Linked DNA regions of Homo sapiens. The protein of the gene in region 2 interacts with the protein of the main gene of each other region in a pairwise test. Each region holds a gene or a part of one and is shown on either strand. Other genes may lie near its edges.

Evidence for each region.
Region 1: the proteins of MYDGF (region 2) and ACOT13 interact in binary tests that used the Homo sapiens proteins (3 or more experiments, as listed by UniProt).

Annotation. Positions count from the first base shown.
Region 1 is NC_000006.12:24,666,794-24,679,331, forward strand, and holds the start of ACOT13 (acyl-coenzyme A thioesterase 13), read left to right. Parts: upstream 1-283; 5' UTR 284-470; coding exon 471-551; intron 552-2,323; exon of another isoform or gene 2,324-3,145; intron 3,146-3,855; exon of another isoform or gene 3,856-12,538. Other genes in the region: TDP2 (tyrosyl-DNA phosphodiesterase 2), read right to left, coding at 1-69. UniProt on the Homo sapiens protein: Catalyzes the hydrolysis of acyl-CoAs into free fatty acids and coenzyme A (CoASH), regulating their respective intracellular levels. Has acyl-CoA thioesterase activity towards medium (C12) and long-chain (C18) fatty acyl-CoA substrates.
Region 2 is NC_000019.10:4,658,495-4,671,032, forward strand, and holds the start of MYDGF (myeloid-derived growth factor precursor), read right to left. Parts: upstream 11,849-12,538; 5' UTR 11,841-11,848; coding exon 11,667-11,840; intron 10,152-11,666; coding exon 10,101-10,151; intron 6,444-10,100; coding exon 6,382-6,443; intron 3,585-6,381; coding exon of another isoform or gene 3,227-3,584; exon of another isoform or gene 3,212-3,226; intron 2,257-3,211; coding exon 2,175-2,256; intron 1,510-2,174; coding exon 1,437-1,509; intron 1-1,436. UniProt on the Homo sapiens protein: Bone marrow-derived monocyte and paracrine-acting protein that promotes cardiac myocyte survival and adaptive angiogenesis for cardiac protection and/or repair after myocardial infarction (MI).

The DNA.
Region 1 (12,538 bases), on a different chromosome or scaffold from region 2:
TTTCACCTCAGGCTCGCCCTCTTCCTCCGCCGCCTCCCTCCCGCCCTCCAGGCAACTCCCCAACTCCATCTTCCTGCCGCCTCTGCACCGCCCCTTTAAGCGGAACAGGAGGCCAACGCGCGGCTCTGCGCAGGCGCCTGTGTCATGGCGCTCCCGCATCAACCGCCCGGCGGGGAAATGCGCTGCTCTCGGAAAACTGGTGCAGCTGCGCCGCAAGGGAGCCGCCGGGGCGGTGGGTGCGAAGCGCGCATGCGCGCTTCGTCACAAGGGTGCGAGGAAAGTCAGTGAGCAAATCGCGGACCACCGGGGCTGCCAGCTCGCCTGACTCCCGGCCTCTTGCGCTCCTAGGGGCGGAGAAGGGTGCGGGCTCTTCGCCCTTTGTGTCCTCCTTCTTTCACTAACTTCTGGACTTTCCAGCTCTTCCGAAGTTCGTTCTTGCGCAAAGCCCAAAGGCTGGAAAACCGTCCACGATGACCAGCATGACTCAGTCTCTGCGGGAGGTGATAAAGGCCATGACCAAGGCTCGCAATTTTGAGAGAGTTTTGGGAAAGGTATGGGAAAGGTAGGGGAGAAGCCGTGGCTTCTAATGAAGGAAAAGAAAGCACCGTGCTTGGTGCCGTTGTGAGCTTTGAATAATTATCTCTTGTTAGGTTGTGTTCTAGTACGCCTGTAAATTCACCTTAGTAATAATGATTATTACTTTAATGGAGCCCCTAAATATGCTGGGTCGAACGCGTAAGTTCTCTATCTAAACATAGATAAGTATGGTTATGACTCGTGGAGACAGTTCCAAGGCTGGGAGGGACTTTGGAGTTTGATCCTTCAACCAACAAACGTCTGCATTGCTCCAGAGAAGAGTAAGAGAAACCTCTGCATTTAAGGCACATTACAGTCTAATTCTCTAGGCTCTAGAAGATTAGAAGATAAATAATTGCAATAAGGTACAAAAGCCAAGTGCTTGGTAGAGTGGTGAACGAAGGGAGAAGTTGTTCCTCTGTAGTGGTTTGGGAAATTTCTCAAAGGCACCCAACTCCTGAAGAAGTAAGTTAGCCCTTGGAGGAAGACTGAGTGCTTTTCTGAGACCAGCACTCACAAAGCCCGAAGGTGTTTGTTTGTTTTTGTTTTTTTAGGATGAGGTTTCGCCCTTGTTGCCTAGGCTGGAGTGCAATGGCGCGATCTCGGCTCACTGCAACCTCCACCTCCCTGGTTCAAACAATTCTCCTGCCTCACTCAGCCTCCCGAGTGGCTGGGATTACAGGCATGCGCCACCATGCCCAGCTAATATTGTACTTTTAGTAGAGACAGGGTTTCTCCATGTTGGTCAGGCTGCTCTCGAACTCCCGACCTCAGGTGAAACGCCTGCCTCCGCCTCCCAAAGTGCTGGGATTACTGGTGTGAGCCGCCACGCCAGACCTTGAAGGTGTTTGTTGTTGTTGTTGTTTTGAGATGGAGTCTTGCTCTGTTGCCCATGCGGGAGTGCAGTGACACGATCTCGGCTCACTGCAACCTCCGCCTCCTGGGTTCAAGTGATTCTCATGCCTCAGCCTTCCAAGTAGCTGGGATGATTACAGGCATGCGCCACCAAGCCTGGCTAATTCTTTATTTTTATTAGAGACAGGGTTTCATCATGTTGGTCAGGCTGGTCTCAAACTGCTGACCTCAGGTGATCCACCTGCCTTGGCCTCCCGAAGTGCTGGGATTACAGGCATGAGCCACCATGCCCCGCCAAAAGCAGGGATTTACTGAAAATGAAAGGACACTCCTGTGTTTGGGGTGTGGAGCAGCAGCTCAGGGGCCCTAATACCCCATTGAAGTCTCCTATTGGCCACTTGGTACTCATCTCATGTAAATGAAGTGGTGACCCACAATTGGCTGTGAAAAGCAACCAATGAAAGGCTAAAGTGAAGTTACAAAGTTGCCCTTATATGCAAACGAAGACGTGGCGTGCAATCAGATGGTGAAGTTACATAGTTACACTCCTATGGGAAGATCTGATTGGTTGCAGAAAGAATAATTTTTTTTAAGGGATAACTTACTTCTTAGCGTAATTTTGCTTTTTGCAACCAATCAGAGGTACTTTCAATTTCCCATCTGCCACACAGAAAAGGTGGGGGTTTGGAAAGGGAGAAGCCTCTGGTTCTTTTGTTACTTGGTGTGGGAAGTTAGGGTTTTACTTTCAATTTAGTTCTAGGAAGTCAGCGTGAAACAGCCCTAGGTTCCCTGCCTCCAGATCCGATTCTCCTGCCTCGCTTGTAAGAAAATCATGCTCCATAAGAAGCATTTATAACTAAACCTTGTGAACCCCAAAAATTTGAGACAGGTATCAGTTAATTTAGAAAGTTTATTTTGCCAAGGTTGAGGATGCGCACGCAGTGACACAGCCTCAGGAGGTCCTGACAACATGTGCCCAAGGTGGTCAGAGCACAGCTTGGTTTTATGCGTTTTAGGGACATATAAGACATCAATCAATATATGTAAAATGAACACTGGTTGGGTTCGGAAAGGCGGGACAACTTGAAGCGGGAAGGGGGCTTCCAGGTCACGGGTAGGTGGGAGACAAATGGTTGCATTCTTTTGAGTTTCTGATTTACCTTTCCTAAGGAGGCAGTCAGATACACATTTATCTCAATGAGCAGAGGGATGACTTTGAATAGAATGGGAGGCAAGTTTGTCTTAAGTAGTTCCTAGCTTGAATTTTCCTTTTAACTTAGTGATTTGGGGGCCCAAGATATTTTCCTTTACATTTGCCCCCTTTTCTTTTTTTTAAAAAAAATTTTTTTTTGGAGAAAGCATTTTAGAAGAAAAATGAGTCTTTGGTCCCAGATTTCATCTGATCGCTCATGCTAGGATGGTTTATTCCTAGACAGGTAAGTCCCAAGTTATTAGGAAAGCTAATTTTTAGAAGGCTGTGAACTCCCATGTCTTGTGAAGAGAAAATAGGGGGAGGAAGGGTGAAAAACAACAAACAAAAGAACAATCCTGGAAAATATACATAGGCCACGTTATTCTGAAGTCCATACATCAGTAGGCAGGTATGAAAGTGGCTTATGCGTGTAAATAGGTTGCTGTTATTTTCTTCTGAAGTTTAAGTTGTCTAGCTTCAGTTTGCAGGGCTTTACAAAAGCACAGCTGTTTTCAGTGACTCCTAATTAGGAAAAAAAAGGAAAAGAAAAGAAAAAAATTAAAAATATTATTTTGGAGACTTGTAGCCAGGAAAAATTAGAATTCAGCCTAAACTGTAGAAAATAATAAAAATTGAAAAAATTAGGCAAGACTAGTATCTAACAACAAGTGGACTGTAAGTTTTGAAACAATTTTTCTCTCTCCAGTTTTCCATTTTTACTAAAGACAAATCATGGTAGGACTGATTTGCTTTATTATATTTGACCAGATTATTTATATAAAGTGTAGCAAGAATAATTATTTTTCACATAGGCTTTTTAAAATTGGCTTTGAAGGAACTTTGTTCCATAGAAGGAATCTCAGATAAGATTCTTTTTAAAGCCAAGCTCAGCCATGGATTTGTACCATCAAATACCTATGAGTAGGGTGAATTTCCTCTTTTTGATGTTCCATGATAAACCAGGGGCTCCTGGACCTGTCAGAAAATGACATTCTTTACTTAGCACATATCAGAAACCCTGTACAGGGACTTTGTAAAGTGTGAGGCCAGTTTTCCCAAGGGCTTTTATTGGCTCCATAAGTCAGGTTTGATTACTTAAAGGAAAGTACACCTTTCCACTCAAAGCCTTGGTAAAATAATCAGTTTCTCCAACTGTGTCCTGTTACAAATGAAAACAGATTCTTACTGCACTTATGCAAATAACTGTATTGGCACAAGTTAAGAATACTCACAAATAGTTTACAAATTCTGGAGAAATCAGGTAGAGAGAAACAAATATGCTCCAAATTTTGTTGATTGGAGTATACTAAATTGTTAAAAGCTGTCAATAGCTCAAAAGAAAAGTTTCAAGGCTCTGAAAAACAAAGCAAAAGATCAGCAATGTTTAAGCAAAAAGTCAAAAAGATTAGTTCAGTCCCCTTAGTTAATTCCTATTCTGCTTGATATTCATGAGCATTTTAGCTCTCCATGAGTTCTGAAAGTTTTTCCTCTATTCTCATGTAACAATCTCCAAAGTTAATGGAGACCTGCATTCAAGAGGAAACAACAGGTGCTGGAGAGGATGTGGAGGAATAGTTACGTTTTTACACTGTTGGTGGGAGTGTAAACTAGGTCAACCATTGTGGAAGACACTGTGGTGATTCCTCAAGGATCTAGAACTAGAAATACCATTTGACCCAGCCATCCCATTACTGGGTATATACCCAAAGGATTATAAATCATGCTACGATAAAGACACATGCACATGTATGTTTATTGCAGCACTATTCACCATAGCAAAGACTTGGAACCAACCCAAATGTCCATCAATGATAGACTGGATTAAGAAAAAATGACACATATACACGATGGAATACTATGCAGCCATAAAAAAGGATGAGTTCATGTCCTTTGTAGGGACATGGATGAAGCTGGAAACCATCATTCTCAGCAAACTATCACAAGGACAGAAAACCAAATACCGCATGTTCTCACTCATAGTTGGGAATTGAACAATGAGAACATTTGGACACAGGGCAGGGAACATCACACACTGGGGCCTGTCGTGGGGTGGGGGGATGGGGGAGGGATAGCACTAGGAGAAATACCTAATGTAAATGACGAATTAATGGGTGCAGCAAACCAACATGGCACATGTATACATATGTAACAAAACTGCACGTTGTGCACATGTACCCTAGAACTTAAAGTATAATTTAAAAAAACAAATTTAACAAAGAAAACATTATCAAGAATAAATAATGAATCTCAAAAAACAACAACAGCAACAACAAAAAAAAACACTTTCTAAAGAGGACCAAAACAACACAACAATTGTGCGTGGATGACTAAAAGTTTTAGGGCAGCCATAGGCAAAGACACAATTGACAAGGAAATTTGATACCTCTCCTCTGTAGCACACAATAATTTTAACGTAACAATTATGATTATTACTGATAATGTACACTAGGTCATATCAGAATTACAGGAATTTCCCATAATTTTGGAACACATACCAATAACATATTTATACAAATACATCTCAAAGAAAGCCAAACACTGTTGCATATTTGACAATGCTTCCTGTGTAATTTTTGTACCAAATAAGCCAAATTATGCCATTTTTGGACTTCAGGGAATCTAATATCTTAAAGGACTAATTAGGTCAGAAAAAGACATAATTTATAATTTGATTTTGGAAAGTTTGTCAAATATCAAATGTTTAAAACACCTGATATCACAAAAATAGGATCACAGGTCATTATAAAATAAATCATTCATTTAACCAAAGTGATAACTCAAGGATTTCATAAAAAGGTGAAAACCTTCATTCTTTGAGAGAGGGGACTTAACTTTCCAAACAATAAGCCCTAATAAAAACAGCATGAAGCTAATTAAATTTGTTTTCAAAATTTTATAAACAATCTATAAAATTTTAAACTTGACCATAAGATATAATTTCTAACTGGGCGTGGTGGCTCACGCCTATAATCCCAGCACTTTGGGAGGCCGAGGTGGGCAGATCAGGAGGTCAGGAGATCAAGACCATCCTGGCCAACATGGTGAAACCCCTTCTCTACTAAAAATACAAAAATTAGCTGAGTGTGGTGGCACGCGTCTGTAGTCCCAGCTACTCGGGAGGCTGAGGCAGGAGAATCGCTTGAAGCCAGGAGGCGGAGGTTACAGTGAGCTGAGATTGAGCCACTGCAGTTCCAGCCTGGGTGACAGGGCGAGACTCCATCTCAAAAAAAGAAAAGAAAACAAAAGATATAACTTCCATAAGCCTTTATAACCTTTATTAAGGAGTCAGTTAATGTGTCAAGAAAACCTTGTTAATCTGATTACAGGGGCCCATAAGCTGATCTTGCATCATTGTGCCTTTGACGTTAATCATTAATTTATAGAGAAACTGAACTTATTTTATCTTTCAAATTTGGACCTTACAGTCTTACCTGCCCACCTCTTCTTCGATAGTCTCTGGGCCTTGAGGAGTTGAATGCCTTTAATTTCTGGCCGTGTATCTCAGGAATGCAGTTTATTTTGATTGGCGTCTTCTACGGGGCCTGAAGATGACAGCTTCAATTGCTGTCAGTGTTTAAGATTTAGTAGGACTTGGTGTCCTTTTTAGACCCAGGAGTCAAAGCCCTGTAACCTAAGGTCACAAGGACTTTAAAAGCACATACAGGAAAATACCCAGTTGTAATCATGTTAATTAAAAAATCTTTTTTTAATCTCAGTTTTTTCCTAAACATAGGAATTATTTCAACAAAATGTAAACTCTGTTAGGTCAGTTACCAAAAAGCAAAAGAAAAGACCTTCTGCAATGCACAGAACATGATGTTGGAAGAAAACACTTCCTTTAGACCTTTAAGACAGTGTGCCTTTTTAAAGGGGAGAGAAAGCTGAAAAAAAATGGCAAGATGCAATAAAAATTGAACTTTCAGTTTTAAAAAAAAATTAAATTCTCTTATAATTTTTTTTTTGAAATAGAGTCTCGCACTGTTGCCCAGTTTGGAGTGCACTGGTGCAATCTTGGCTCACTGCAGCCTCTGCCTCTTGGGTTCAAGCAATTCTTGTGCCTCAGCCTGCCAAGTAGCTGGGACTACAGGCACATGCCACCAGGCCTGGCTAATTTTTGTATTTTTGTTAGAGACGAGGTGTCACTACGTTGGCCGGGCTAGTCTACAACTCCTGACCTCAAGTGATCCACCTGTCTTGGCCTCCCAAAGTGCTGGGATTACAGGCAGAAGCCACCATTCGTAGGCAAATTCTCTTATAATTTATTAAGAGTAAGTTAACCCCTTAAGAAAAGTTTATTTTTCTAACCAATAATTTCGTGTATATGTGTCTTTTTTAACATGAAGCCCAGTCTCTAGAAAGAGCATTATAATTTCCTTTTAATTGTAAACATGATCATATACAATTTTTTTAAAACAAATCCTCTTATTGTGACATACACAGACCATTCATGACATGCTTGAACTTTTATCTTAGGACTAAATTTACCATACAGTATTCTTTCTCATGTAAAATTATTTCTAAGCTTTCTTACCACATACAAAAAAAATTTGTTTTATAACTTCCTTTACAACATCTCTCTTATTTCCTGATTCCTTTACCTTGTTGTATACATAACCTTTAAATAAGTTTTGTGGGGTTTTTTTTGTTTGTTTGTTTTTTATCTGAGACAGAGTCTTGCTCTGGCACCCAGGCTGGAAGGCAATGGCCCGATCTTGGCTCACTGCAACCTCCACCTCCTGGGTTCAAGTGATTCTCCTGCCTCAGCCTCTCGAGTCGCTGGGATTACACGTGCACCACAATGCCCAACTAATTTTATATTTATAGTAGGGACAGGGTTTCACCATGTTGATCAAGCTGGTCTTGAACTGACTTCAAGTGATCTGCATGCCACGGCCTCCCAAAGTGCTGGGATTGCAGGCATGAGCCGCTGCCCCTGGCCTAAATAAGCTTTGAATTAGACAAAACTTGTTCACCGTTTTTGGGGGGTTTTGTTTGTTTTTTTGTTTTTTTGAGATAGAGTCTCATTCTGTCACCCAGGCTGGAGTGCAGTTGCGTGATTTCAGCTGAGTGCAGCGTCTGCTTCCTGTGTTCAAGTTATTCTCCTGCGTCAGCCTCCTGAGTAGGTGGGATTACAGGCGCCTGCCACCACGCCTGGCTAATTTTCATTTTTTGTATATTTAGTAGAGACAGGGTTTCACCATGTTGGCCAAGCTAGTCTCAAACTCCTGACCTCAAGTGATCTGACTGCCTTGGCCTCCCAAAATGCTGGGATTACAGGCATGAGTCAGTGCACCCAGCCCTAGAGTTCAACTGTTTTTTTATTTTCTTATTATACTTTAAGTTCTAGGGTACATGTGTGCAACGTGCAGGTTTGTTACATATGTATACATGTGCCATGTTGGTGTGCTGCACCCATTAACTCATCATTTACATTAGGTATATCTCCTAATGCTATCCCTCCCCCCTCCCCCCACCCCACGACAGGCCCCGGTGTGTGATGTTCCCCACCCTGTGTCCAAGTGTTCTCATTGTTCAGTTCCCATCTATGAGTGAGAACATGTGGTGTTTGGTTTTCTTTCCTTGAAATAGTTTGCTGAGAATGATGGTTTCCAGCTTCATCCGTGTCCCTACAAAGGACATGAACTCATCCTTTTTTATGGCTGCATAGTATTCCATGGTATATATGTGCCACATTTTCTTATTCCAGTCTATCATTCATGGACATTTGTGTTGGTTCCAAGTCTTTGCTATGGTGAATAGTGCTGCAGTAAACATACATGTGCATGTGTCTTTACAGCAGCATGATTTATAATCCTTTGGGTATATACCCAGTAATGGGATGGCTGGGTCAAATGGTATTTCTAGGTGTAGATCCTTGAGGAATTGCCAGTGTCTTCTACAATGGTTGAACTAGTTTACAGTCCCACCAACAGTGTAAAAGTGTTCCTATTTCTCCACATCCTGTCCAGCACCTGTTGTTTCCTGACTTTTTAATGATCACCATTCTAACTGGTGTGAGATGGTATCTCATTGTGGTTTTGATTTGCATTTCTCTGATGGCCAGTGATGAAGAGCATTTTTTCATGTATCTGTTGGCTGCATAAATGTCTTATTTTGAGAAGTGTCTGTTCATATCCTTTGCCCACTTTTCGATGGGGTTGTTTGATTTTTTCTTGTAAATTTGTTTAAGTTCTTTGTAGATTCTGGATATTAGCCCTTTGTCAGTTGGGTAGATTGTAAAAATTTTCTCCCATCCTGTAGGTTGCCTGTTCACTCTAATGGTAGTTTCTTTTGCTGTGCAGAAGCTCTTTAGTTTAATTAGCTCCCATTTGTCAATTTTGGCTTTTGTTGCCATTGCTTTTGGTGTTTTAGACATGAAGTCTTTGCCTATGCCCTGAATGGTATTGTCTAGGTTTTCTTCTAGGGTTTTTATGGTTTTAAGCCTAACATTTAAGTCTTTAATCCATCTTGAATTAAGTTTTGTGTAAGGTGTAAGGAAGGGATCCAGTTTCAGCTTTCTACATATGGCTAACCTGTTTTCCCAGCACCATTTATTAAAAGGGAATCCTTTCCCCATTTCTTGTTTTTGTCAGGTTTGTCAAAGATGAGATGGTTGTAGATGTGTGGTATTATTTCTGAGGGCTCTGTTCTGTTCCATTGGTCTATATCTCTGTTTTGGTACCAGTACCATGCTGTTTTGGTTACTGTAGCCTTGTAGTATAGTTTGAAGTCAGGTAGCGTGATGCCTCTCCAGCTTTGTTCTTTTGGCTTAGGATTGTCTTGGCAATGCAGGCTCTTTTTTGGTTCCATATGAACTTTAAAGTAGTTTTTTCCAATTCTGTGAAGAAAGTCATTGGTAGCTTGATGGGGATGGCATTGAATCTATAAATTACCTTGGGCAGTATGGCCATTTTCACGATATTGATTCTTCCTATCCATGAGCATGGAATGTTCTTCCATTTGTTTGTGTCCTCTTTTATTTCGTTGAGCAGTGGTTTGTAGTTCTCCTTGAAGAGGTCCTTCACATCCCTTGTAAGTTGGATTCCTAGGTATTTTATTCTCTTTGAAGCAATTGTGAATGGGAGTTCACTCATGATTTGGCTGTTTGTCTGTTATTGGTGTATAGGAATGCTTGTGATTTTTGCACATTGATTTTGTATCCTGAGACTTTGCTGAAGTTGCTTATCCGCTTAAGGAGATTTTGGGCTGAGATGATGGGGTTTTCTAAATATACAATCATGTCATCTACAAACAGGGACAATTATAGAAGGACTGGGGGTCCTTCTATAAGCATTTCTAATAGAGGGTCCTGCCTTGCCGCTCTTTTGGCTTCAATATCCGCTTGGCAGTTCCTTTCTGTTTCCCTTTCCTTTCTGGTGACTCTGGCAGTGTAAGACTGCCACCTCTTTAGGTTTCTGTACAGCCAATAGTAATCTCCTAATGGCTTCCTGATGTTTGATAGGTGTTCCCTCGGAAGTTAGGAATTCCCCTCTCTCCATATTGCTGCATGGGCATGGAGGACTAGGTAAGCGTACTTAGAGTCTGTATATATATTTACCCTTTTCCCTTCTCCTAATTCTAGTGCCCGAGTGAGGGCTATTAGTTCTGCATGCTGAGCACTAGTTCCTGGAGTGAGGGGATTAGTTTCAAGTATTCCATTATCACTGACCACTGCATACCCCGCTTTTCAAAGTCCTTTTTCTGCAAAGGAACTTCCATCAGTATACAAGTTGAGGTTGGGATCAGTCAAGGGAACCCCTAAAAGGTCCCCTTGAGCAGCATTAGGTTTGAGCAATCACATGTTGGCATTTATGTTCTATCTTTTCTTCATTGTCTGGAAGAAATGTGGCTGTGTTAAGAGTTGCACAAGTGCGCAGTCACACCACTGGCCCATCAAGTAATAGAGCCTGATATTTAAGTAAACGGTTGTCTGACAGCCACAAGTCTCCTTTAGCAGTGAGTATGCCATTCACATCATGAGATGTTCACACAGTAAGATCTCTTCCCTGTATTACTTTAACTGCTTCAGATACTAAGACTGCTACTGTTGCCACTACCCGTAAACAATGAGGCCAACCCTTTGCCAGTACATCAATTTCCTTACTCAGGTATGCCACAGGTTGCAAGCTGGTCCCTCGGACCTGTATAAGGACTCCTAGAGCTATTCCTGTTTCTTTTGCGACATATAAAGAAAAGTCTTGCCCCATTGGCAAGCTTACCACTGGGGCTTGGGTTAGGGCCTTCTTTAGGGCCTGAAAAGCCACTTCTGCTTCAGGTGTCCATCTTACTAAATGGGTATTGGCTTTCTGAGTTTCCTTAGTGTGTATAATGGCCTGACTATTTCGCTGTACCTGGGAATCCATATTCGGCAGAAGCTTGTTATGCCAAGGAACCCTCTTAGTTGCTTTAGGGTTTTGGGATGAGGATAAGCCAGTATAGGCTGGATACGTTCCTCACTGAGGGCCCTTGTGCCTTTGGATAATTTTAGCCCTAAGTTTTTAACCTGCTGTGAGCAGAGCTGAGCATTTTGTTTGGAAACCTTGTAGCCACAGGTAGCAAGGAAATTTAAGAGTGCTTGGGTGGCTTGATGGCACCAGGTTTCTGATCGGGTGGCTAAAATTAAATCATCCCCGTACTGAAGGACAAGAGTGTCCAGGTATGAGAATTGGCTCAAGTCTTGGGCTAATGCCTGGCCAAATAGATGGGCGCTATGCTTGAACCCTTGGGGTAAAACAGTCCAGGTGAGTTGAGACATTGGGTTCAAAGGATCTTCAAAGGCAAACAAGAATTGAGAGTCAGGGTGTACAGGGATGCAGAAAAAGGCATCCTTAAGGTCCAGGACTGTAAACCACTCTGCTTTCTGTGGTTTTTGGGAAAGCAGAGTACAAGGGTTAGGTATAGCAGGGTATAGAGGAAGAACAGCCTCATTGATAATCCTGAGATCTTGCACTAACCTCCACTGTCCATTAGGTTTCTGTACTCCTAAAACTGGAGTATTGCAGGGGCTATTGCATGGTTTTACTAGGCCTTGGGCTTTTAAGTCCTTAACAATCTTTTGGAGTCCTTGTTGGGCCTCAGGTCTAAGGGTACTGCCTTTGGTAGGGAAAGGAGGTAGAATCCTTTAATTTAACTTGAATAGGACAGGCATTCTTTGCTCATCCATATTGTCCTTCTGTTGCCCAGACGTCAGGATTAATTCCTTCCTCAAGCAGGGGAAAACAAACAGGTGTTCCTTCTCCTATGTTCAGATATATAATGGCCCCTGCTTTTGCTAGAATGTCTCCCCCTAACAAGGGAGTGGGGCTTTCAGGCATAATTAGAAAAGCATGTGAAAAGAGTAAAGTTCCCCAGTCACAACTTAGTGGCTGTCCTAGGACCCCTCGGATAGTGACAGATCTGGAGGACAGTTGTCTGGGACAGGAGAGTAAGACTGAGAAGGCCATGCCAGTGTCCAGGAGACAGTTAACCTCCTGGCCTTCAATGTTCAAGCATACCCGGGGCCCTGTGAGGGTGATGGCATGGGCTGGTGCTTGCCCCGGGCACCCTCAGTCCTGCTGCTGGATCATCTGGTTAGTGGCTTCTGACTCAGAGGACCTTCGTCCCCTGGGGCAATGGGCCTTCCAGTGATTCCCTTGACATAAGGGGCATGGACGAGGGGGCAGCTTACTTCTACTTGGACAATCTTTTTTAAAGTGTCCTTGTAGACCACACTGGAAGCAAGCCATATTAGGCATTCGATTTGCCCAGCTTTTCCCTTTTCCAGAGACTCCAAAGTCCGCTTGCCTGAGGGCCATGACTAAAGCAGTGGCCTTTTTTTTTATCCCGTTTGTCCCATTCCGCCTGCTTCTCCTGATCTGTATTATAAAAAACCGAGGTTGCCAAGTTCAATAGGGTCTAAGTTTTGCTCTGGGCCTA
Region 2 (12,538 bases):
GACACTTCTCCAGCAGGGTCAGAACTCTGGCTTCCACTGCTTCACCCAAGTCTCCCGGCCCTACCTGCTGTGTCCACTCCCTTGGCTCCCACCCTTGCCCCAGCTCGGCGCCTCCGATTCCTCTTTCTGCTTAGCATTGGCGCCATGCAGCTGAATGTGGCTTGAGGACACCGGTGCTGCTCAGGCAACCGAAGAAGGACCCTGATGTTTCCCAGTGACCCCTGCAGCCTCCCCTCGGCATGCCACAGTCCCAACCTCAAAGCCCTGATGGTTTCTACTTTGTTTTATTTCATTTATTTATTTTTTAAAATTTATTATTTTTTTTGAGATGAGAGTCTTCCTCTGTTGCCTAGGCTGGAGTGCAGTGGTGCAGTCTCGACTCACTGCAACCTCCTGCTCCTAAGTTCAAGAGATTCTCCTGTCTCTGCCTCCTGAGTAGCTGGGATTACAAGCATGTGCCACCATCCTTGGCTAATTTTGGTATTTTTAGTAGAGAAGGGGTTTCACCATGTTGGCTAGGCTGGTCTGGAACTCCTGGCCTCCCAAAGTGCTGGGATTACAGGTGTGAGCCACCATGCCCAGCCCTGTTTATTGTTTTTGAGACAGAGTCTTACTCTGATGCCCAGGCTGGAGTGCAGTGGTGCGATCATAGCTCAATGCAGCCTCGACCTCCTGGGCTCAAATAATCCTCCCACCTCAGCCTCCTAAGTAGCTGAGACTACAGGTACACACCACCATGCCCGGCTAATTTTTTTTCTTTTTGAGACAGAATCTTGCTGTCTTCCAGGCTAGAGTGCAGTGGCATGATCTCAGCTCACTGCAACCTCCACCTCCCAGGTTCCAGCAATTCTCCTGAATAGCTGGGATTACAGGTGCGCACCACCACGCCTGGCTAATTTTTTGCATTTTTAGTAGAGATGGGGTTTCATTATGTTGGCCAGCTGGTCTGGAACTCCTGACCTCAAGTGTTCCGCCCGCCTCGTCCTCCCAAAGTGCTGGGATTACAGGCGTGAGCCACCGCACCCAGCCTGATTTTTAAAAAAATTTTGTAGAGACAGGGTCTCGCTATGTTGCCCAGGCTGGTCTTGACCTCCTGGGCTCCAATGATCCTCCCACCTTAGCCTCCTGAGCAGCTGCGGTAACAGGCATGAGCCACCGCGCCCAGCTAAGATAAAGTTCTAGTGGCACACAGCCACACCCACGCATGGACATACTGTCTGCAGCAGCTTTGTGCCACAATGGCACAGCTCTAGACAGAACCCACAGTGCCACAAAGCTGAAGATATTGACGAGGTGGCCTTTATAGAATCAGTTTGTGGATGCCTGGTCTACAGTCTCCAGGACCCCTATGGCTGACCCCCCTCTCCAAACTGCCCCGATTGCCCACCCTTGGATGGGGGTGGCGTCACCTCTACCCCATCCCCATCTTTCCGTACCTGCTGTTTTGGTCACTTCAAATTCCTCAGTTTTCAGAGGGACATCACTTTCCCTTTCAAATGCGGCTTTAGACTGAAAAAGAATGAGTGGAAACTTTACCAGGGCCAGTTCAATGCTCATCATTAGGAAAACGATTGAGTTTGCTTTCCAGAGAAGCACAGACTAAAGCTTTCTACTTTTACTAGAGATGGAGAGGAGACTTTTTTGTTTTTGAGCCAGGACCTCACTCTACTGTCCAGGCTGGAATGCAGCAGTGCAATCATAGCTCACTGCAGCTTCAAAGTCCTGGACTCAAGTGATCCTCCTGCTGCGGCCTCCTGAGTAGGTGGGACTATGGGTGCATGCCAACACGCCTGGCTATTTTTTTTTTACTTTTGGTAGATATAGGGTCTTGCTATGTTGCCTAGGCTGGAATCAAATTCCTGGCCTCCAGCAATCCTCCTGCCTCAGCCTCCCAAATTGCTGGGATTACTGGCGTGAACCGCCGCGCCTGGCCTGGAGAAGTCTTTTCTGGCATATACAAGAGAAGCCAGCAGCAACAGGTTACCAAACCCCCGTGCCCCTGGCCTGGGGGCGTCTGTGTGCCAGGTTCCTGCAAGTTACACACCCTACCTCTGCAGGATTCGCTGTCCCCTCTCCTCCCTGTCCCCATGGAGCCCTCTTGTGGCAGGACATCTCACAGCTGCCCCAGTGCACAGAAGCCACACCCGGAGCCTGCCCCACTCCAAGATACTCACGTAGGCCATGGCGTACTCAATCTCAGCGCCCCGCACCTCTGCCTTGAACTGTGTGAAGTACAGATAGGACTTCCCCTGGGGCCTGCAGAGGAAGAGGGGGCGAGGGAGTCAGGCCAGGCCTGCTGGGTCTGGGTCTGTGTGCCCTGGAAGGAGCCCCGCCAGGGACTCGGGCTGGGGTCAGCAGGTCTCGTGCCTGCTTCTCAACATGGACGCCATTCCCGAGCACGAGCACCTGCTGACTGGGAAGGATGGATGGGGCCCTCTCAACAGCAGACCCTCTTTCTTTTGTGCCAGAATTTTTTTTTTTTTTTTTTTTTGGAGACGAGTCTCACTCTGTTGCCCAGGCTGGATGGCAATGGCACAATCTCACTCACTGCAGCCTCTGCCTCCTGGGTTTAAGTGATTCTCCTGCCTTAGCCTCCCTTGTAGCTGGGAGTACAGGCACCCGCGACCACATCTGACTAATTTTGGTATTTTTAGTAAAAACATGGTTTCACCATGTTGGCCAGCCTGGCCTGAACCCCTGACCTCAAGTGATCCACTCGCCTCAGCCTCCCAGAGGGCTGTGATTAGAGGTGTGAGCCACTGTGCCTGGCCCCTTTGTGCCAGAATGTTCTTCCAGCTCATTCATAGACACGCCTCTCTCCCCTGTGGGCTGGGAGCTGCTCTGGGACAGGACCCCATGTCCATTCACTGCACATGGCTTCTTGGTTGCTGACAGCAATCCAGGTACTACGACGGGGGCTGGGGCTGGGCAATGAGAGGCCAGTAAAGGCTTCTCAGAGGGCATTGACTAGGAAGTACAGGAGTTAACTTAAGAAGTGGGGAGGATCATCTGCCCAGGTCTCTAGAAGGCTGCTAACGGAGGCTTCTAAGGAACTGGAGTGGCAGAAGGTGTCGGAAGGTGACAGCAGGGGATGATGGCATCTCTGGTGTGAAGAGAGTGTGATGGGGATGGAGGGGCAGCAGGGGGGCCATTTCTGTGGAAGCCCTGGCTGGGGTTCTATGTGCATGGGTGGGGCGGGGGTATCCAGGGAGCCCTAGATTCTTCTTTAAGCCCTAGCACTGCCAACAGCCCTGGTCAGGGAGGGTCCAGTCACTGTCTGAGATGAGGAGGCCTGGGGTGGCAGGTCTCCGGGGCTGAGCATGCCCCTGGGGAGCTTTTGTGGGGGTTGGACAGGAGGATTCAGGCTCAAGGTGAGCCCAGCCACCATCCCAACTGCTCCAGACCTGCACCTGCCCAGATGCCCTCTGGGGAGCTGGCACTCAGGGGTCCATGCAGGGCAGTGGCCTGCAGACAGACGATGGCGACCGTGGGCTTCCCCAAGACTACAGGGCGGCCTCTGCAGGGTCTCTCTGGGCTGATGGGGCCTATCTCCTCTCAATGACCCTCCTGATGCCTCCTGGGGCCTTGGCCTGCCTGTGATGCAGCCAGTTCCATGGAGTGGGTGAGAATCTCCCCAGAAACACCTGCTGTTTGTAAAGCGCCCCGCAGGGCACGGCGGGACAACACCCACACGAGGCAGCAAATCACACCCTGTCCTTCAGTTAAACGTCGCCACTCCCTGATCTCTGCCTCCCATTTGTCAACGTGCTTTAACCTGACCGCAGTGGTGGAGCTATAGCTTGGACTTCTCCCTCCAAAGTGTCTGCACAAAATAAAGGCTCAAGAAATACCCACTGTTTGGGCTGAGACATTCTGGGCCAAGGATCAGGGAAGAAGGGACAAGATTCCTGAAGCCCCCGACCCCCTCCCCACCGGGGGGCCTGACGGCTTCCTTCCCTTCATGACCTTGCCCAGATCGAGCTGGGATCTAGGCAGTGGGGTTACGAGAATGAGTGGGGCGAGTGGAGCCGGGATAAGCCCATAAACCATGAGCCTGACAGAGGATGGCGGCAGGGGCAGAATCGGGCGGTGTCTGGGGAGACTTGGGGAGGGGCTGTGGACCCAGATGCATGTGTGTTCGGGCAGGTGGAAGAGAGTGCACAGCTTTTGTCTGATTCCCAGATGTCTGCACCCCAAGAAGGCTATGAGCCATCAGGCTGGTCCTTCAGAGAACATGCTGGTAAAGACCTGCCTGAGGGGAAACAGCTGGGGCCCCTTCTGGTGGGACACATTCCCCGGGAGATAGCATCATCCAAACCTCCACAGCCACTACCCCACAGACTCCCACACCTGCCACCTGCCTAGCTCGTCCCCAGCCCAGACCTGCACCAGCTCCGCCAGTTCCACCAGGACTCTGCCCAGCACCTTCCTCCTCCTCCTACCCCAGCTAGCTGATTCCACAGCCTCCAATCTGTGCCCTCCCCTCCTCCCTGTCCTCATTTTACACAGCCTCCAGTCTGTGCCTTCCCCTCCCACTCCGTCCTCATTCTACAGCCTCCAATCTACTCTCCCCACCCCACTCCATCCTCATTCTACAGCCTCCGATCTACATTCCCCACCCACCTCATCCTCATTCTACAGCCTCCAATCTACCCTCCCCACCCGTCCTGTCCTCATTCTACACAGCCTCCAATCTACCCTCCCCACCCGTCCTGTCCTCATTCTACACAGCCTCCAATCTACCCTCCCCACCCACCCCATCCTCATTCTACAGCCTCCAATCTGTGCCCTCTCCACCCATCCCATCCTCATTCTACACAGCCTCCAATCTACGCTCCCATCCACCCCATCCTCATTCTACAGCATCCAATCTACTCTCCCCACCTACCCCATCCTCATTCTACACAGCCTCCAATCTGTGCCCTCTCCACCCACCCCATCCTCATTCTACACAGCCTCCAATCTACCCTCCCCACCCCATCCTCATTCTACAGCCTCCAACCTGTGCACTCTCCACCCACCCCATCCTCATTCTACACAGCCTCCAATCTATCCTCCCCACCCACCCCACCCTCATTCTACACAGCCTCCAATCTACCCTCCCCACCCACCCCATCCTCATTCTACAGCCTCCAATCTACCCTCCCCACCTCATCCTCATTCTACAGCCTCCAGTATACCCTCCCCACCCACCCTGTCCTCATTCTACACAGTCTCCAATCTGTGCTCTCCCCACCCACCCCATCCTCATTCTACAAAGCCTCCAATCTACCCTCCCCACCCACCCCATCCTCATTCTACACAGCCTCCAATCTGTGCCCTCTCCACCCACCCCATCCTCATTCTGCACAGGCTTCAATCTGCGCCCCACCCCCAACCCCCGACTCCATCCTGGTTGGTGCCTGGAGGGGCTCCCTGCCTCAGCCTGCCTCCTTCAGCCGGGGGGATCTGAGCTCCACATGTTCCTGCAGGGAGCCCTCTGGAATAGGACTCAGCCAGGAAAAGAAATGAGGCTGACACGGGCCTCAGCATGGATGAGCCTTGAGGACGTCACGTTCAGTGAGAGACGCCAGACACCAAAGGCCACACAGGGAAGGTTTGACCCCATTTCTATGCAATGTCCAGGACACGCCCATCCACAGAGACAGGAGGGGGATGCGTGGCTGCCATGTGCTGGGAAGGAGAATGACTCTGATGGGAACAGAGTTTATTTTCAGGGGATGAAAATGTTCTGGAAGCAGAGGTCTGGCTGCACACCTCTGAGAAAGTACTCCATGCAGCTGAATTGTGAGCTTAAAATGCTGTGCTTTATGGAATTTTATCTCAGTTTTTAAACATTGCCAAAAAGGGTCAGGCATGGTGGCACACGCCTGTAATCCCAGCTACTCAGGAGGCTGAGGGAGGAGAATCGCTTGAACCCAGGAGGCGGAGGCTGCAGTGAGCCAAGATTGCTCCACTGCACTACAGCCCGGGCAAAAGATGGAGACTCCATCTCAAAAAAAAAAAAAAAAAAATTGCCAAAAAGCCCTTTGGTGAGTTCGTCTCACCCTTAGGGGAGGGTGGAGCCCCTTGGGGCCTTCCTGGGCCCTGGTCCACGCTCCGCACCCTCTGAGCTGCTTCTCCTTTTCCTGGGACCTTGCCCCGCACAGGCTCCCCCCGTCTCCCCCAGACCTTCTCAGTCTCTGCATCAGTGCACTTCCTTGGGGAGCACTCCCACCCCAGCGACCCTGCCACCCCCCACCTGCACGTGCATGAGTCTCCCTGCTGGTCTGTCTTCCCCTCCAGGGGTGCAGCCCTCGTTCCCTGCCTTCCAAAGCAGCTCCTGAGGCCACAGGGCAGGCCAACGGCAGCCGGAAATGCCATCCCCACCCCGAGTCTCACCTCCAGATGGTGCAGGTGAAGTGCTGGTGGTCTTCGCTGGTCCCCAGACTCATCTGCCATTGCTGGGGAGAGAAGACAGCGCGGGTCAGCCCCGGACACACAGCTGCTCTCGGAGACTTCTAGGTGTGCCTCTGATTCTACAGTCAGGCCACCTCTTCTGTACCTCCCGATTCAGGGGCTGGCCACTAAATCCCCTGCCCCGCCCTCCTGGTGGCCTGGGGTTTGCTGTCATCTGTGATCAGGGAGCCTGCCTGCACCACATCCTTCCCATAAAAGTGGTGCCTCTAATGAGAACTACCCCAAAGTGGCTCCCACGGATGGGGAAATAGGAACAACGCTGTTTGTTTGTTTGTTTGTTTGTTTTTGAGATGGAGTCTCTCTCTGTGGCCTGGGCTGGCGTGCAGTGGCACGATCTCGCCTCACTGCAACCTCTACCTCCTGGGCTCAAGCGATCCTCCCACCTCAGCCTCCCAAGTAGCTGGGACCACACCCAGCTAATTTTTGTGTTTTGTAGAATCACTGTCTTGCCATATTGCCCAGGCTGGTCTCAACCTCCTGGCCTCAAGCAATCCTCCCACCTTGGCCTCCCAAAGTGCTGAGATTACAGATATAAGCCACCATGCCAGGCCTAAGAACAACTCTTAAACATATAAATAGATGTCCAGGCCGGGCGCGGTGGCTCACGCCTGTAATCCCAGCACTTTGGGAGGCCGAGGCAGGCAGATCACGAGGTCAGGAGATCAAGACCATCCTGGCTAACATGATGAAACCCCATCTCTACTAAAAATACAAAAAATTAGCCGAGCGCAGTGGTGGGCGCCTGTAGTCCCAGCTACTCGGGAGGCTAAGGCAGGAGAATGGCGTGTACCCGGGAGGCGGAGCTTGCAGTGAGCTGAGATCGCGCCACTGCACTCCAGCCTGGGCGACAGAGCGAGACTCTGTCTCAAAAAAAAAAAAAAAAAAAAAAAAAAAAAAAGATGTCCCATATCATTTATGAAAAATAAATAAACACAAGCTGAACTATCGTGAGATACCTTTTTCTCCCAGGTCAGAAGGGCAAAAGCCCTCCTGTCTGCTAACACACCATATGGGTGTGAAAACCAAGACTATTCCAGGTTGTCGGTGGAGCTGCAACAGGTACAAGCAAAATGGAAAATGCAGGCTGGGCATGGTGGCTCATGCCTGTAATCCCAGCACTTTGGGAGGCCAACGTGGGATGATCACTTGAACCCAAGAGTTCGAGACCAGCCTGGGCAACATAGCGAGACCCCATCTCTAAAATGACTGGCCTCTTGCACGATGTTACCACCGGGGAACCTGGTTAAACGGTACTTGGATCTCTCTGTAGGATTTCTTACAAGTGAATGTAAATCTACCATGATCTCAAAACATACAGTTTTACTTTTTTTTTTTTTTTTGAGATGGAGTCTCGCTCTGTCACCCAGGCTGGAGTGCAGTGGTGCGATCTCAGCTCACTGCAACCTCTGCCTCGTGGGTTCAAGCGATTCTCCTGCCTCAGCCTCCTGAGTAGCTGGGATTACAGGCGCGTGCCACCACGCCCTGCTAACTTTTGTATTTTCAGTAGAGATGGGGTTTCACCATCTTAGCAAGGCTGGTCTCAAACTCCCAACCTCAGGCGATCCACCTGCCTTGGCCTCTCAAAGTGCTGGGATTACAGGCGTGAGCCACCGCGCCCAGCCCAGTTTTACTTTTAAGAAAATGGACCCATGAATCCCACTTCTGGGTGGTTTTCCCACAGATGTAACTGCACTTGTACAATGAACCCTGGCCAAGGTTATTCACGGACTGGGTTGGAAGTAACCCTCAATCCATTAGTACGGGATTGTCAACTCCACACGTCCATGCAACTGAAGCGCTTTACATAGGATACAGAAAAATCTCTAGGAGGCCGGGCACCGGTGGCTCACACCTGTAATCCCAGCACTTTGGGAGGCCGAGGCAGGCTGATCATTTGAGGTCAGCAGTTCAAGATCAGCCTGGCCAACATGGCGAAACCCATCTCAAGGTGTTGACCGGGCTAGGCTCTTACTGGTAGCTCAAGGTCCTCTTCCAAGCTCTTGTGGTTGTGGCAGATTTCAGTTCCTCTTGGTTGCGGGACTGAAGTCTTCATTTCCTTGCTGCCAGCCAGAGGCTGTTCTCAGCTCCTAGAGGCCGCGTGTATTCCCTGCCCTGCAGTTCCCTCAAGGGCAGCAGTGGCGTATGTGTCCATGTGCTTCAAATCACCCTTTTTTTTTTTTTTTTTTTTTTTTTGAGACAGAGTCTCGCTCTGTCGCCCAGGATGGAGTGCAGTGGCGCGATCTTGGCTCGCTGCAAGCTCCGCCTCCCGGGTTCACGCCATTCTCCTGCCTCAGCCTCCCCAGTAGCTGGGACTACAGGTGCCCACCAAAACACCCGGCTAATTTTTTGTATTTTTAGTAGAGACGGGGTTTCACCGTGTTAGCCAGGATGGTCTCGATCTCCTGACCTTGTGATCCACCCGCCTCGGCCTCCCAAAGTGCTGGGATTACAGGCATGAGCCAGTGCGCCTGGCTCGCCCGGCTAATTTTTGTAGTTTTAGTAGAGACGGGGTTTCACCATGTTGGCCAGGCTGGTCTGGAGCTCCTGACTTCAGGTGATTCGCCAGCCTTGGCCTCCCAAAGTGCTGGGATTATAGGCATGAGCCACTGTGCCTGGCCCAAATCATCTTTACTGGCTCTTCTGCCACCAGCTGGAGACAACAGCCAGCAAGGAAACCGGGACCTTGGTCCCTGAACCACAAGTAACTGAATTCTGCCAACTAAGAGCTTGAAGGAGAGGATTCTTCTCCCAGCCCAGAGACTTTTTTTTTTTTTGAGACAGGGTCTTGCTCTGTTGCCCAGTAGCACAATCACGGCTCACTACAGCCTTGACCTCCTGGGCTCAAGCGATCCTCCCACCTCAGTCTCCCAAGTAGCTGGAACCACAGGTGCACGCCACCACGCTGGGCTAATTTTTTTATTTTCTGTAGAGATGGGGCATGAGCCACCATGCCTTGCCTGTGATACCTTTATTTATTTATTATTTATTTTTTGAGACAGAGTCTCGCTCTGTTGCCCAGGCTGGAGTGCAGTGGCACAATCTTGGCTCACTGCAACCTCCGTCTCCTGGGTTCAAGTGATTCTCCTGCCTCAGCCTCCTGAGTAGCTGGGACTACAGGCATGTGCCACCATGCCCAGCTAATTTTTGTATTTTTAGTAGAGATGAGGTTTTGCCATGTTGGCCAGGCTGGTCTCGAACTTTGACCTCAGGTGATCTGCCCGCCTCAGCCTCCCAAAATACCTTGAGTTTGGTTTTATGAAGCACACAACTGAGCTGACCCAGACTTCTGACCTACAAAGCTATGAGATAATAAATGGGTGCTGTTTTAAGCCCCTAAGCTGTGATAACTTGTTGCACTGCACATAAAATACAACATCCCAACAGATGCTCATGGGGATGGCAGACTCCCATCTCCCCTCCCTCCTTCTGTCCAGACATTTGCTTGCTCTGTAGAATAATAACAGCAGAATCTGTCGTCACTGTTTAATGCCAATACTCTCCCTTTTTATTGGTTTAGGAAGAGTCATTCAATGAGTGTAAGGTGATATAGGTGAGACCCAACCCTGCTGTCTGCTACAGAACATCTCCCTACAACAATGGATACTGTCACAGTAAGCTAGAGGGAATTTTGAACAACTCACCTCATTGGTCCCTCCTTGAGAGGCGTAAGTGAACATACACGTATATTTGTCCTAGAGAATGGAAGGAAAAAAAAGGTTTGGTAGAAGGAAATTTTTATTTTGTTTAAGAGACGGGGTCTTGCTGTCACCCAAGCTGGAGTGCAGGGGCACAATGACAGCTCACTGCAGCCTCGAACTCCCAGGTTTGAGTAATCCTCTTGCCTCAGCCTCTCAAGTAACTGAGACAATAGGTACGCAACCACCACACCCGACTAATTTTTTTTTTTTTTTTTGAAGCAGAGTCTTGTTCTGTCGCCCAGGCTGAAGTGGGATGATCTCAGCTCACTGCAACTTCTGCCTCCCGGGTTCAAACGATTCTCCTGCCTCAGCCTCCTGAGTACTTGGGATTACAGGCACCTGCTACCACACCTGGCTAATTTTTCGTATTTTTGTAGAGATGGGTTTTGCCATGGGACCTGGACAAGTGAAAACTTTTCTGAGCCTCTAGTTTCTCTCTGTTTCTCTTTTTTATGTGAAGCATTTTCTCATCTGTAACTTGGGCCTAACATATAAAGGACTTGGCATCACACCTAACTATAAGGAAGTAGTCAACAAACTGGCCTGGCACAGTGGCTCACGCCTGTAATCCCATCACTTTGGGAGGCCGAGGTGGGCGGGTCACCTGCGGTCAGGAGTTCAAGACCAGCCTGGCTAACATGGTGAAATCCCATCTGTACTAAAAATACAAAGATTAGTAGTCCCAGCTACTTGGGAGGCTGCGGCAGGAGAATGGCATGAACCTGGGAGGCAGAGGTTGCAGTGAGCCAAGATCGCGCCACTGCACTCCAGCCTGGGCGACAGAGTGAGGCTCCATCTCAAACAACAACAACAACAATTATCCGGGTGTGGTGGCACACGTCTGTAATCCCAGGTACTGGGGAGGCTGAGGCAGAAGAATTGCTTGAACCCAGAAGGCTAAGGATGCAGTGAGCCGAGATCCCGCCACTGCACGCAAGTCTAAAAAGAAATAGTCAAAAAACAGTAAAGATACTGTTATTACAGGCGGGGAAAGGGAGGCTGAGAGGGGAAAGGACTTTGCCGACAAGCTGAGTACAGGGCTGAGGGCCCGGCCTCACACCCTCGGTGAGGGGGGACCTTGTGCAATGGAAGGAAGGAGCACTTCCTCCCTCTTCGGAGCTGCAGCGACTGATTTCCTTCAGGCCCAGGAGGGCAGATGCCCTTTAGCCTCCTGCCGCTCCCATCACTGACCCCTCCCCACCTCTGCGTCTGGAGGGCAGGGGTGCCTGGACACTCCAGGCAGGCGACAGGTGACAGGTGATCACGCCCCCTCAACGCCGCCGGGGCCCACAAGGCCCCGCTCCCTATGAGTTCAGTCCTGCCCCAGTGATGACCCCGGCCTCACGGTCCCGCGCCCCCCACTCAGCCTCCGACCCTAACAATCCGCACCCCTTCTTCAGTACCCACCTCCGCGGTCCGCGCCCCCTCCTCGGGCCCCGCCCCCAATGCTCCGCGCCCCCTCCCCGGGCCTGCCAGCACTCAAATATCCGGGACGGCGGTGGCACGTACCCCCGGGCCCACGTTATGGGAGAAGGAATGCACGACGCCGCCGGGCCGCACGTCAAACGCCACCGTCGTGGGCTCGGACACCGCCTCCGCCGGCCTCAGCGCCACGGCCCCTAGGAGCAGCGCGGCCCACAAGCTCGCGCCGACGCCGTTCCACCCTCCGCTGGGCGCCGCCATGTTGGACTAGGGTCCTCAGGGCAGGGGCGGGTAGACGGGGCGCGGCGAGGGACACGTGGAGCGTCCGCCGGAGGCCACGTCGGCGTCGGCTGTCCACGTGACCCGGCACGCCCCGCCCTGTCCACCGCCCGGGGCCACCATCTTGGGGGCGGGACTTTGTCGAGGGGGCGGGACTTTTGCCGAGGGGGCGGGGCCGCCGAGGGGGCGGGGCCGCCGAGGGGGCGGCCTCGTACCCTAGGGACCCTGCGTAGCCCGGCGATCCTTGGAGGGTCCCTCAGGTGGTAATGGAGTTCGTTTTGGGGTCTCAGGGTCCCTCACCAGCCGTGTGACTGACTGCAGCTCTTTCAGTTAGGAGATGTACAGGGAGTGAGGGAAATCGAAGGTCACCATTAGGCGAACTTCTCATAATCGTTGCAGCCAAGATGTGTGTGCATCGATATTCAAAATTAGCAGAGGGAAAGTAGGATGAGAAGCAGGATGCTTGCTTTTGTTTCCCTCTTGTTGCCCAGGCTGGAGGGCAGTGGCGCGATCTCGGCTCACTGCACTCTCCGCCTCCCAGGTTCAAGTGATGCACCTGCCTCAGCCTCCCGAGTAGCTGGGACTACAGGTGTTCACCACCACCCCTGGCTAATTTTTGTATTTTTAGTAGAGACAGGTTTTCACCATGTTGGCCAGGCTGGTCTTGAGCTCCTGACCCC